2 separate regions of the Homo sapiens genome follow, and region 2 is linked to region 1. A link means that fine-mapping ties the variant in region 1 to the expression of a gene that starts in the linked region. Tissue or cell type: whole blood. Region 1 holds a variant in brackets; the other region holds the start of a gene. All regions are shown on one strand. Distances are from middle to middle. Region 1 has its middle 15 kb from the start of SPDYE3. Region 2 holds the start of SPACDR (sperm acrosome developmental regulator).

Region 1 (5,369 bases):
ATCACCCGCCTCGGCCTCCTAAAGTGCTGGGATTACAGGCATGAGCCACCACACCCAGACTGTTCTTTTCTCTTACGTTTGGTCACCTGATGCCTCTGAACTCCCTCTTCCACTCTCTCTACATCCTGATGCACAATTTATTTGAAAAGGAGGAAACATTTTCTGTCCCAAGTCCCTTTTTACTCCTTTCTTTCCCAACAAAACCTGTACAGAATCCTCACACTACTGTGTTCTATAGAGGAGCGGAGAGGGAGACCAGTTCTCCACTCCCCTGGCCCTGCTGACACCTGGAGGGTGCCAGGCATGTTCATGGAAACAGCAGCATTGCAGCCTTCCTTCCTTCCCCACAGCTGTATCCGTGTGAGTCTGGACAACAAGGACTTGTCAACACGAATCTCTCTCTTCTCCTGGTGTAAGACAAAACAAAAACAAAAGACGTTGGAGTAGAGATCAGAAAAGGGTGGGTTTGAGATGTTTGGGAGGGTTGAGTGGGCATTTTGACAACTTAGCTTCTCCTTGGGTGGTATTTAGCAGACGCCCTTGTGGTTTAAACTGTAGCTTTAGATATAAAATCCACTCTTGGCCGGGTGCGGTGGCTCACGCCTGTAATCTCAGCACTCTGGGAGGCTGAGGCAGTCAGATCACAAGATCAAGATCAGCAGATTGAGACCATCCTGGCTAACACGGTGAAACCCCGTCTCTACTAAAATAATAAAAAAAAATTAGCTGGGCATAGTGGTGGGCGCCTGTAGTCCCAGCTACTGGGGAGGCTGAGGCAGAAGAATGGCATGAACCCAGGAGGCGGAGCTTGCAGTGAGCCAAGGTCGTGCCACTGCACTCCAGCCTGGGCGACAGAGCGAGACTCCGTCTCAAAAAAAAAAAAAAGAAAATCCACTTCTAATGCTACCTGGGGCCCTGCTGCTTGATGGAGAAACTGAAGAACATAAAGGATCTTGTTTGAGGGTTTTTGTTGTTGTTGTTGTTGTATATTTGTTTGTTTTGAGGCAGGGTTTTGCCCTTTCACCCAGGCTGGAGTGTGGTGGCACAATCACAGCTCACTGCAGTCTCGAACTCCTGGGCTCAGATGATCCTCCTGCCTCAGCCTCCCAAGTAGCTGGGACCACAGGCGTGCACTGCCATGCCTGGCTAAATTTTGTATTTTTTTTAGGGACAAGTTTTGCCATGTTGCCCAGGCTGGTCTTAAACTCCTAGGCTCAATCTAGCCTCCCACCTCAGCCTCCCAAAGTGCTGGAATTATAGGCATGACCCACTACACACTACACCTAGTTTTTGTTATTTATTTATTTTTTAGAGGCAGAGTCTCACTCTGTTGCTCGGCCAGGCTGGAGTTGAGTGGTGCCATCATAGCTCACTGCAGTCTTAAACTCCTGGGCTCAAATGATCCTCCAGTCTCAGCCTCCCAAGTAGCTGGAACCATAGGTGCACATCACAATGCCAGGCTAAATTTTGAAATTTTTTGTAGAGATGGGGTCTCTGATACTGCCCAGGCTGGTTTCAAGCTCCTGGGCTCACATGATCCTCCTGCTTCAGCCTTCCAAGTAGCTGGGACCACAGGCATGTACCTGGTCCAAGCCTGGCTTCTATATTTTTGTAGAGTTGGGGGATCTTGCTCCATTGCCCAGGCTGATCTCAAGCTCCTGGGCTCAAGTGTTCCTCCTGCTTCAGCCTCCCAAAGTGCTGCAATTACAGGCATGAGCCACTGCACCCAGCCTCAGCCTAACAGATTTTTTTTTTTTTTTGAGATAGAGTCTCGCTGTGTTGCCCAGGCTGGAGTGCAGTGGTGCGATCTCGGCTCACTATAACCTCCACCTCCCAGGTTCAAGTGATTCTCGTGCCTCGGCCTCCCAAGTAGCTGAGAGTACAGGTGCATGCCACCATGCTCGACTAATTTTTGGGTTTTGTTGTTGTTGTTGTTTTTTAAGATTGAGTCTCGCTCTGTCGCCCAGGCTGGAGTGCAGTGGCACGATCTCAGCTCACTGCAAGCTCCGCCTCCCGGGTTCACGCCATTCTCCTGCCTCAGCCTCCCGAGTAGCTGGGACTACAGGCGCCTGCCACCACACCCGGCTAATTTTTGTATTTTTAGTAGAGATGGGGTTTCACCATGTTAGCCAAGATGGTCTCAATCTCCTGACCTCATGATCCGCCCGCCTTGGCCTCCCAAAGTGCTGGGATTA[C/T]AGGTGTGAGCCACCGCGCCTGGCCTAATTTTTGTATTTTTAATAGAGACGGCATTTCGCCGTGTTGGCCAGGCTGGTCTTGAACTCCTGACCTCATGTGATCTGCCCGCCTCAGCCTCCCAAAGTGCTGGGATTACAGGCGTGAGCCACCGCGCCTGGCCAGATCTTATTTGGAAATGGTATTCTGCATTGTAATTTTTGTTCTGTTTTACTTTTACATTTTCTTTTTACTACATATCTAGGATTTGCTTTAAAACATCCCAGCCAAGAAAAAGAGGGGAAGGGGAGGATAGTTTGGAGCACATTGGCAAAATCCTGATTGCTATTTAAGCTGGGCAGTGGGTCCACAGGGGTTCACTGTACTCTTCTGTCTACTTTTGTAAATGTTTAAAAATGTTTGTTGTAAAAAGTTCCTTGGTTTTCCTTATGTTTCTCTGGAGAGGAAAAAAGATGTTCAGTTTTATATCTTAAAATGTACAAGCTACCTTGTTAGAATAAAACTAAATGTTTATGCTGCTGGGCACCAGGGCTCATGCCTGTAATACCAGAACTTTGGGAGGCCAAGATGGTGGATCACCTGAGGTCAGGAGCTTGAGACCAACCTGGCCAGCATGATGAAACCCTGTCTCTACTAAAAATAAAAAAATTAGTCGGGAGTGGTGGTGCACTCCTGTAATCCCAGCTACTCAGGAGGCTGAGGCAGGAAGATCACTTTAATCCTGGAGGAGAAGGTTGCAGTGAGCTGAAATCTCACCACTGCACTCCAGCCTGAGCGACACAGCAAGACTCTCTCTCAAAAAAAAAACAAAAAACAAACAAACAAAAAAAACCCAGGACTAGTTCATCAAGAAGCAAAATAATATGACAAACCCTACTTAAATGATTTCATCTGGTTTCAACCACTGCCAGCTGGTTTGATCCAGTTTCAGCTGGTTTCAAATGACTTCATCCAGTTTCAGCCAGGTTAATTCAGCTTCAGCTGGTTGTGAACAGTTTGTGGCTCCTTTCAACCAGTTTCAGGTGGTTTCAGCCAAGGTCATCCAATGTTGGCTGGCTCCAACTGATTTAACTCCTGTTTCAACTGGATTCAGCTGATTTCCACTCTCCTTAAGGCTGTGCTGTCCAATTCAGTAGCTCCTAGCTACATGCAGCTCTTTACATTTAAATTGATTAAAATTAAAGGAAGGCCAAGTTCGCTGGCTCACCCTGTAATCCCAGCACTTTGGGAGGCCGAGGTGGGAGGATCACTTGAGGTCAGGAGTTCAAGACCAGGCTGGCCAACATGGTGAAACCTTGTCTCTACTAAAAATACAAAAAACATTAGCCAGGCATGGTGGTGGGTGCCTATAGTCCCAACTATTCAGGAGGCTGAGTCAGGAGAATCATTTGAACCTGGGAGGTGGAGGTTGCAGTGAGCCGAGATCACGCCACTGCACTGGCAGCCTGGGCAACAGCAAGACTCTGTCTCAAACAAATAGATAAAATGAAATCAAAATTTCATTTCTAGTGTTACAGGCAGAATGTTTGTGGACTCTCCAAAATTCATATGTCAAACTCCTAACTCCCAATGTGATGGTATTTGGAGGCAAGAAGTTTGGGAGGTGATCACGTTGAGATGAGGTTATAAGGGTGGAATTCACTTGATGGGATTAGCAGCCTTTCGAGAAGAGTCATCACAGAGCTTGCTTCCTCTCTCCCTGTCTTGGTCCATTCTGGCACTGCTATAAAGAAAAACCTGAGACTGGGTAATTTATAAAGAAAAGAGGGGTGTTTTGTTTTGTTCTTGGAGATGGAGTTTCACTGTCGTCACCCAGGCAAGAGTGCAATGGCACGATCTTGGCTCACTGCCACCTCCACCTCCTGGGTTCAAGCCATTCTCCTGCCTCAGCCTCCTGAGTAGCTGGATTACAGGCATCTGCCACCACGTCCAGCAAATTTTTGTATTTTTAGTAGAGACGGGGGTTTCACCATGTTGCCCAGGCTGGTCTCGAACTCATGACCTCAGGTGATCCACCCACCTTGGCCTCCCAAAATGCTGGGATTACAGGTGTGAGCCACCACACCCAGCCAAGAAAAGAGTTTTAATTGGCTCACGTTCCACAGGCTGTACAGGACTCATGATTCTGACATCTGCTTAGCTTCTGGGGAGGTCTCAGGAAACTTACAATCATGGTGGAAGGTAAAGGGGAAGCATGCACATCTCACATGGTCAGAGCAAGAGGATGAGAGAGAGGTGGGGAGGTGCTACTCACTTTTAAACAAGCAGAGCTCATGATAACCTACCATGAAAACAGCATGGAGGGGATGGTGCCAGCCCATTCATGAGAAATCCACCCCATGATTTAATCACCTCCTACCAGGCCCCACCTCCAACACTGGGGATTACAATTTGACATGAAACCTCTTTTTTTTTCTTTTTTTGTTTTTTTTTGAGACACAGTTTCACTCTGTCACCCAGGCTGGAGTGTAGTGGCGCCATCTGGGCTCACTGCAACTTCTGCCTCCCAGGTTCAAGCGATTCTCCTGCCTCAGCCTCCTAAGTAACTGGGATTACAGGCGCCCACCACTACACGCGGCTAATTTTGTATTTTTAGTGGAGACAGGGTTTCACCATGTGGTCCAGGCTAATCTCAAAGTCCTGGCCTCAGGTGATCCGCCCACCTCGGCCTCCCAAAGTGCTGGGATTACAGGTGTGAGCCACTGCACCTGGTCTCGACATGAGATTTAAGCGGGGGACACAGAGCCAAACTATATCACTCCCCATCATGTGAGGATACAGGGAGAAGACAGCCATCCACAAACCAGGAAGTGGGCCCTCACCAGACACCAATCTGCTGGTTCCTCAATCTTGGAATTGTGAGAGAGAAATGTGTGTTGTTAAGCCACCCAGCCTATGGTTTTCTGTAACAGAAGCCCAAATAGACTAAGATACTCAGTCACGCTGCTCACAATTCCAGTGCCCACAAGGGCCAGGACCACGTGTGTTCAAGTGGCCAGCATATTGGATGGTGCATTCATAGAACATTTCCATCACCACAGATGGTCCTTCTGGGCAGCTCTGCTCTCGGGAGGAGTTCAGATGTAGAGATCATGGCAGCAAAAGTCTCTCAGAGTCAGGTGAGAGGCAGAAAGATAAGTCTGTTATTGGCTGGGCGCGGTGGCTCACACCTATAA
Region 2 (5,369 bases), 170 kb before region 1:
TGGAGCAGGAGAATGGGCTGCTGCGCGCCCTGGCCAGCCCGGAGCAGCTGGCTCAGCTGCCCTCCTCGGGGGTCCCACGGCTTGGGCCCCCTGCGCCCAATGGGCCCTCCGTCTGAGCCTCCCTTCCCTTACAATGTGCCTTTGGGGCTGCCCGGCCTTGCGTCAGCCGCCTGCCCCCTCTTCCTATGCAGCTTTAATGTCCCCGTGTCCCCGGGGTGGGAGTTCAAGGCTCAGTAATGGCCTGGTCCCCCGGCCCCTGCCCCATCTCCTCATCATCCCCAGCCTTGATGGAGGAGGGAGGGCTTCAGGACGGGGCGTCAGAGGGAGCCCCCTCTGGGAGGGAACCAACCCCCACCCTCCCTCCTGGGACCCCCCAGCAGTAGACGGCTTGGGGGAGTCGGAGGCTCCCCGGCAGACACCCCACCCCCATCTTGTTCCCTTGAGGTGCCTCCTCTCCTCTGCCCAGGGGAGGGAGTGTGGACAGTATCTGGAAGTTCTGGGATTCAGGTTGTTATTAAAATAATAATAATAATTAAAAACTCTGAAGAAACTTGAATTTGGAGGTTGACATCTCGTTCGTTGCTTGTGTTCAGACTCAGGGGTCGCGCCTGCCATTTAGGGCTCCCCTGAGATCTTTTGCAGACTGGGGAGGTTTAAAGCGTGGGAGACGGAGGAATTGAGACAGAGGCTGGAGAAGGGAGCCAGCGGTTCGGGTCCTGGGAAGGGGCAAGTGAGGATTGGGGGTGGGGGGGCGTCTGCCCACGTGCTGGGCGGGGGGCTGGGAAACAATAAGGTCTTTGGTGGTTGCCCAAGATCCACCCCTGGCTTCCCAGTGTGTCCCCTCTGCGGGCTGGATCCGGGTGGCTGCTTGGGGGCGGGGCGGGGGGCCCTGAATGGGCCCCTTGTCTCGGGGCTGGGTGTGGGCCAGGCTCCCCGGGCACACGGTGCCCTTGCCAGGCCTGGCCAGCCGCCGTGGCTCCCACCCCCGGCCAGCTGAGGACGGGCCCTGTGGGTGAGCTGGCCCCTCCCTGGCAGCCTGGGCTCCGGTCCCAGGCGGAAGAGTCAGCAGCAATGGAGAAGGACCCCATCTAGTGGGGAAGAGGCGAGAGCTGCAGCTGTAGCCCCAGGAGGCCCCTAGCCCCGGGATCCCCTGGCCCCAGCAGCCTCCAAGGAGGCTGACCTGTCTTGGAGTGCCTGACTCTCTGCCTCCTTAGGTTTCCCTAGGTTCATAACCTTGGGCAACTTCTTTGGTTTTTCTTTTTTTTTTTTTCATTTCTCCTTTCTTTTTTTGAGACAGGGTATTGCTCTGATGCCCAGAGTGCAGTGGCACAATCACAGCTCCCTGCAGCCTCCACGTTCCTGGCTCAAGTGATCCTCCCGCCTTGGCCTCCCTGAACTATAGGTGTGCGCCACCACGTTCAGCTAATTTTCTTTATTTTTGTAGAGATGGGGCCTTGCTATGTTGCACAGGCTGGAGTGCAGTGGTGTGATCATAGATCACTGCAGTCTTCAACTCCTGGGCTCAAGTGATCCTCCCACTTCAGCCTCCTAAGTAGCTGGGACTACAGGCATGTGGCACTATGCCCAGCTAGAGTCGAAGTTTCGCTCTTGTCACCCAGTCTGGAATGCAGTGGTGAGATCTCAGCTTACTGCAACCTCCACCTCTCAGGTTCAAGCGATTTCCATGCCTCAGCCTCCTGAGTAGCTGGAACTACACGTGTGCACCACCACACCCAGCTAATTTTTTTTTTTTTTCGTATTTTTAGTAGAGAAGGGGTTTCACCACTTTGGTCAGGCTGGTCTCAAACTCCTGAACTCAAGTAATCTGCCTACCTCAGCCTCCCAAAGTGCTGGGATTACAGGCATGAGCCACTGCGCCTAGCCTAAATTTTTTGGTAGAGACCATCTCGCTATATGGCCCAGGCTGATCTCAAACTGCTGGCTTCAAGTAATCCTCCCACCTTGGCGTCCCAAAGTTCTGGGATTACAGGTGTGAGCTACCACACCTGGCTCTCTTAAGTTTTTTCCTTCCTTGCTTCCTTCCTTCCTTCCTTCCCTCCTTCCTTTTTTGTCTTTCTTTTTTGTTTTTTTCTTTCCTTCTTTTCTTTCTTTTGTTCTTTTCCTTCTTTCTTCTTTCTCTCTCTCTCTCTCTTTCTTTCTCTCCTCTCTGTCTCTCTCTCTTCCTTCCTCCCTCCTCTCCCTTCCTTCCTTCCTTCCTTTTTTTTTTTTTTTTTTTTGAGACAGGGTCTCATTCTGTTGCCCAGGCTGGAGTGCAGTGGCACAATCATGGCTCACTGCAGCCTCCACCTCCTGGGCGCAAGCAATCCTCCTGCCTCAGCCTCCTGAGTAGCTGGGACTGCAGGCACACACCACCACTCCCAACTGATTTAAACTCTTTTTTTGAAAAATTTAAACATAGTGAGTTGGGGGGAGTCTCACTATGTTGCCCAGGCTGGTCTTCAACTCCTGGCCTCAAGTGATCCTCCTGCCTCAGCCACCCAAAACACTGGGATTACAGGCATGAGCCACCATGCCCGGCCCCCTTCAGCTTTCCTGAATTTCAGATTCCTCTTTGATGAAGTGGCACTAACAATAATACCTATCTTGAAGGGCTGCTGTGAAGGACTGCAGGACGTGATGCAGGAACAGTGCTTATTAGTTTGTTACGTGTTAGTTTATTTTCCCTGGATCTGAGCGAAGAAGAGCCAGGGTGGAAGAGATGGACTCTGTGGGTCTGGGCAGGGCCTCGGGGGTTGGGGTCGGGGCCAGGCAGCCTCACAATGGTCTAGAACTCTCCCTCACTGTAGGTTCTCACCTACTTCGACTCCTCTCCCTGTCCCAGGGAGGGGAGAAAAGGTCTGGGATTCATTGCCAGGAGGGGCTTCCCCCAGGATTTCCTACTTCTTTCTTTACTGCTGTGCTTGAAGCTCACAGGAGACCCCTCAAGAGGTGGTCACCGGCCCACAGCCCACCCCATCCCCCACCCGCCACCCCCACCGTACCAAATGCTAGCTCTGCCCTTTCTTCTGTGTTTTTCCCATCAAGAGAGATGGTTGTGGTCATGAAGTTCTTCCGATGGGTTAGACGGGCTTGGCAAAGGATTATTTCCTGGGTGAGTTTCTGAGACCACTCTGTCCTCATGATGCGCTGGGATGAGGGCATGGGTCGCAGCAGCCCCTTACTGCGTGGGTTCCCTCCCTTCCTGGCCTGTGGCCAAACAAGATGGAGTGGGGAGGAAGGAAAGGACAGCTGGGGAGGGGCTGGAGGAGAAGGAAGAGAGGCCAGGAAACTCACTGCTCCATCCCTTTTGTGCCTTCTTTTCTGTGGATGGTGTTGTCTCTGCCCTGCCCCTCTCTCCTGTCTCTCCTCTCTGTGTCTTGGTTCTCAGGTTTTCTTCTGGAGGCAAAAAATTAAACCAACCATCTCAGGACACCCTGACTCCAAGAAACACTCATTGAAGAAGATGGAGAAGACTCTCCAGGTGGTTGAGACTTTGAGGTTGGTCGAGCTCCCAAAAGAGGCTAAGCCCAAGTTGGGTGAGTCCCCCGAGCTGGCAGATCCCTGCGTGTTGGCCAAGACTACAGAGGAGACCGAGGTGGAGCTGGGCCAACAGGGCCAATCCCTACTGCAGCTGCCGAGGACGGCCGTCAAGTCTGTCTCCACGCTCATGGTCTCTGCCCTGCAGAGCGGCTGGCAGATGTGCAGCTGGAAGGTCAGCACCATCCTAACACCCCCTCCCTCTTTCCCCAGCCCCCAGTGACTCACCCCTCCCTCTGATTACTTGTTCAACAATTGTTTCCTGGCCTGGTGCAGTGACTCACGCCTGTAATCCCAGCACTTTGGGAGGCTGAGATGGGAGGATCACTTGAGCTCAGGAATTCGAGACCAGCCTGGGCAACATAGCAAGACCCTGTCTCTTAAAATATCTTTTTCTTTTTCTTTTTCTTCCTTTCTTTTTTTTTTTTCTCCCTGAGACAGAGTCTCCCTCTGTCGCCCAGGCTGGAGTGCAGTAGCGTGATCTCGGCTCACTGCAACCTCCACCTCCCCGGTTTAAGCTATTCTCCTGGCTCAGCCTCCCGAGTAGCTGGGGACTACAGACTCCCACGCCTGGCTAATTTTTGCATTTTTAGTAGAGACAGGGTTTCACCACGAGGCCAAGCTGGTCTCGAACTCCTGGCCTCAAGTGATCCACCTGCCTCAGCCTCCCAAAGTGCTGGGATTACAGGCATGAGCCACCATGCCCGGCAAATGTTTTCTTTCTTAGCCAGGCATGGTGGCTCATGCCTATAGTCCCAGCACTTTGGGAGGCTGAGGCAGGAGGATCACTTGAGGCCAGGAGTTCAAGGCCAGCCTGGGCAACAAAGTGAGACCCCATTTCTACAAAAAAGTTAAAAATTAGCCAGGCTTAGTGGTGCCTGTATTTCCAGCTACTTGGGAGGCTGAGGCAGGAGGAACACATGAGCCCAGGAGTTCAAGGCTGTAATGAGCTATGATTGTGCCACTGCACTCCAGCCTGGGCAATAGAGCGAGACTCTGTCTCTTAAAAATATATATATATTTCTGGCCGGGCACGGTGGCTTACGCCTGTAATCCCAGCACTTTGGGAGGCCGAGGCAGGCTGATCACGAGGTCAGGAGATTGAGACCATACTGGCTAACATGGTGAAACCCCGTCTCTACTAAAAATACAAAAAATTAGCCAGGCAAGGTGGCAGGTGGCTGTAGTCCCAGCTACTCAGGAGGCTGAGGCAGGAGAATGGCATGAACCCGGGAGGCGGAGCTTGCAGTGAGCCGAGATAGCACCACTGCACTCCAGCCTGGGCGACAGAGCGAGACTCCATCTCAAAAAAAATAAATAATAAAAATAAAAAATATTTCCTATGCGTCCACCAAATGCCATGTACTAAAGATACAACAATGAACAAGACTTGCAGACTTGCAGGGCTACAGATGAGACAATAGGCATTGCTAGTTCAGTATCCACACATTGTTGAGTGTGACGTTGTCAAGCGGGCTGTAGGACCCCAGGAGAGAGGCATGTTATCCAAACCTAAGGAGTCAGGTGAGGCCTTTTTTTTTTTTTTTTTTTGAGACGGAGTCTGTCGCCCAGGTTGGAGTGCAGTGGCGGGATCTCGGTTCGCTGCAAGCTCCGCCTCCTGGGTTCACACCGTTCTCCTGCCTCAGCCTCCTGAGTAGCTCGGACTACAGGCACCCGCCACCACGCCCAGCTAAATTTTTTTTTGTATTTTTAGTAGAGGCAGGGTTTCACTGTGTTAACCAGGATGGTCTTGATCTCCTGACCTCGTGATCTGTCCGCCTCGGCCTCCCAAAGTGCTGGGATTACAGGTGTGAGCCACTGCGCCCGGCCAG

What was found. PIP is the estimated chance that this variant, and not a neighbour inherited with it, causes the effect.
Region 2: SPACDR starts here. The variant in region 1 is the best candidate, but not a certain one, in a credible set for the expression of SPACDR in whole blood (TOPMed, PIP 0.86).

The regions. Positions count from the first base shown.
Region 1 is chr7:100,290,124-100,295,492 of GRCh38, reverse strand. No RefSeq gene overlaps it. Among named protein-coding and RNA genes, the nearest start is that of SPDYE3, 15 kb to the left of the region's middle. The variant C/T (reference allele first, on the strand shown) is at 2,196.
Region 2 is chr7:100,461,706-100,467,074 of GRCh38, reverse strand. SPACDR (sperm acrosome developmental regulator) reads left to right here and starts at 2,815. Exons shown (of 3, transcript NM_001004323.3): 1 at 2,815-3,112; 2 at 3,389-3,712. The coding sequence starts at 3,050. It overlaps TSC22D4-C7ORF61 (TSC22D4-C7orf61 readthrough), which reads left to right. Exons shown (of 6, transcript NM_001395846.1): 5 at 3,389-3,712. It overlaps TSC22D4 (TSC22 domain family member 4), which reads left to right. Exons shown (of 5, transcript NM_030935.5): 5 at 1-556. The coding sequence ends at 116.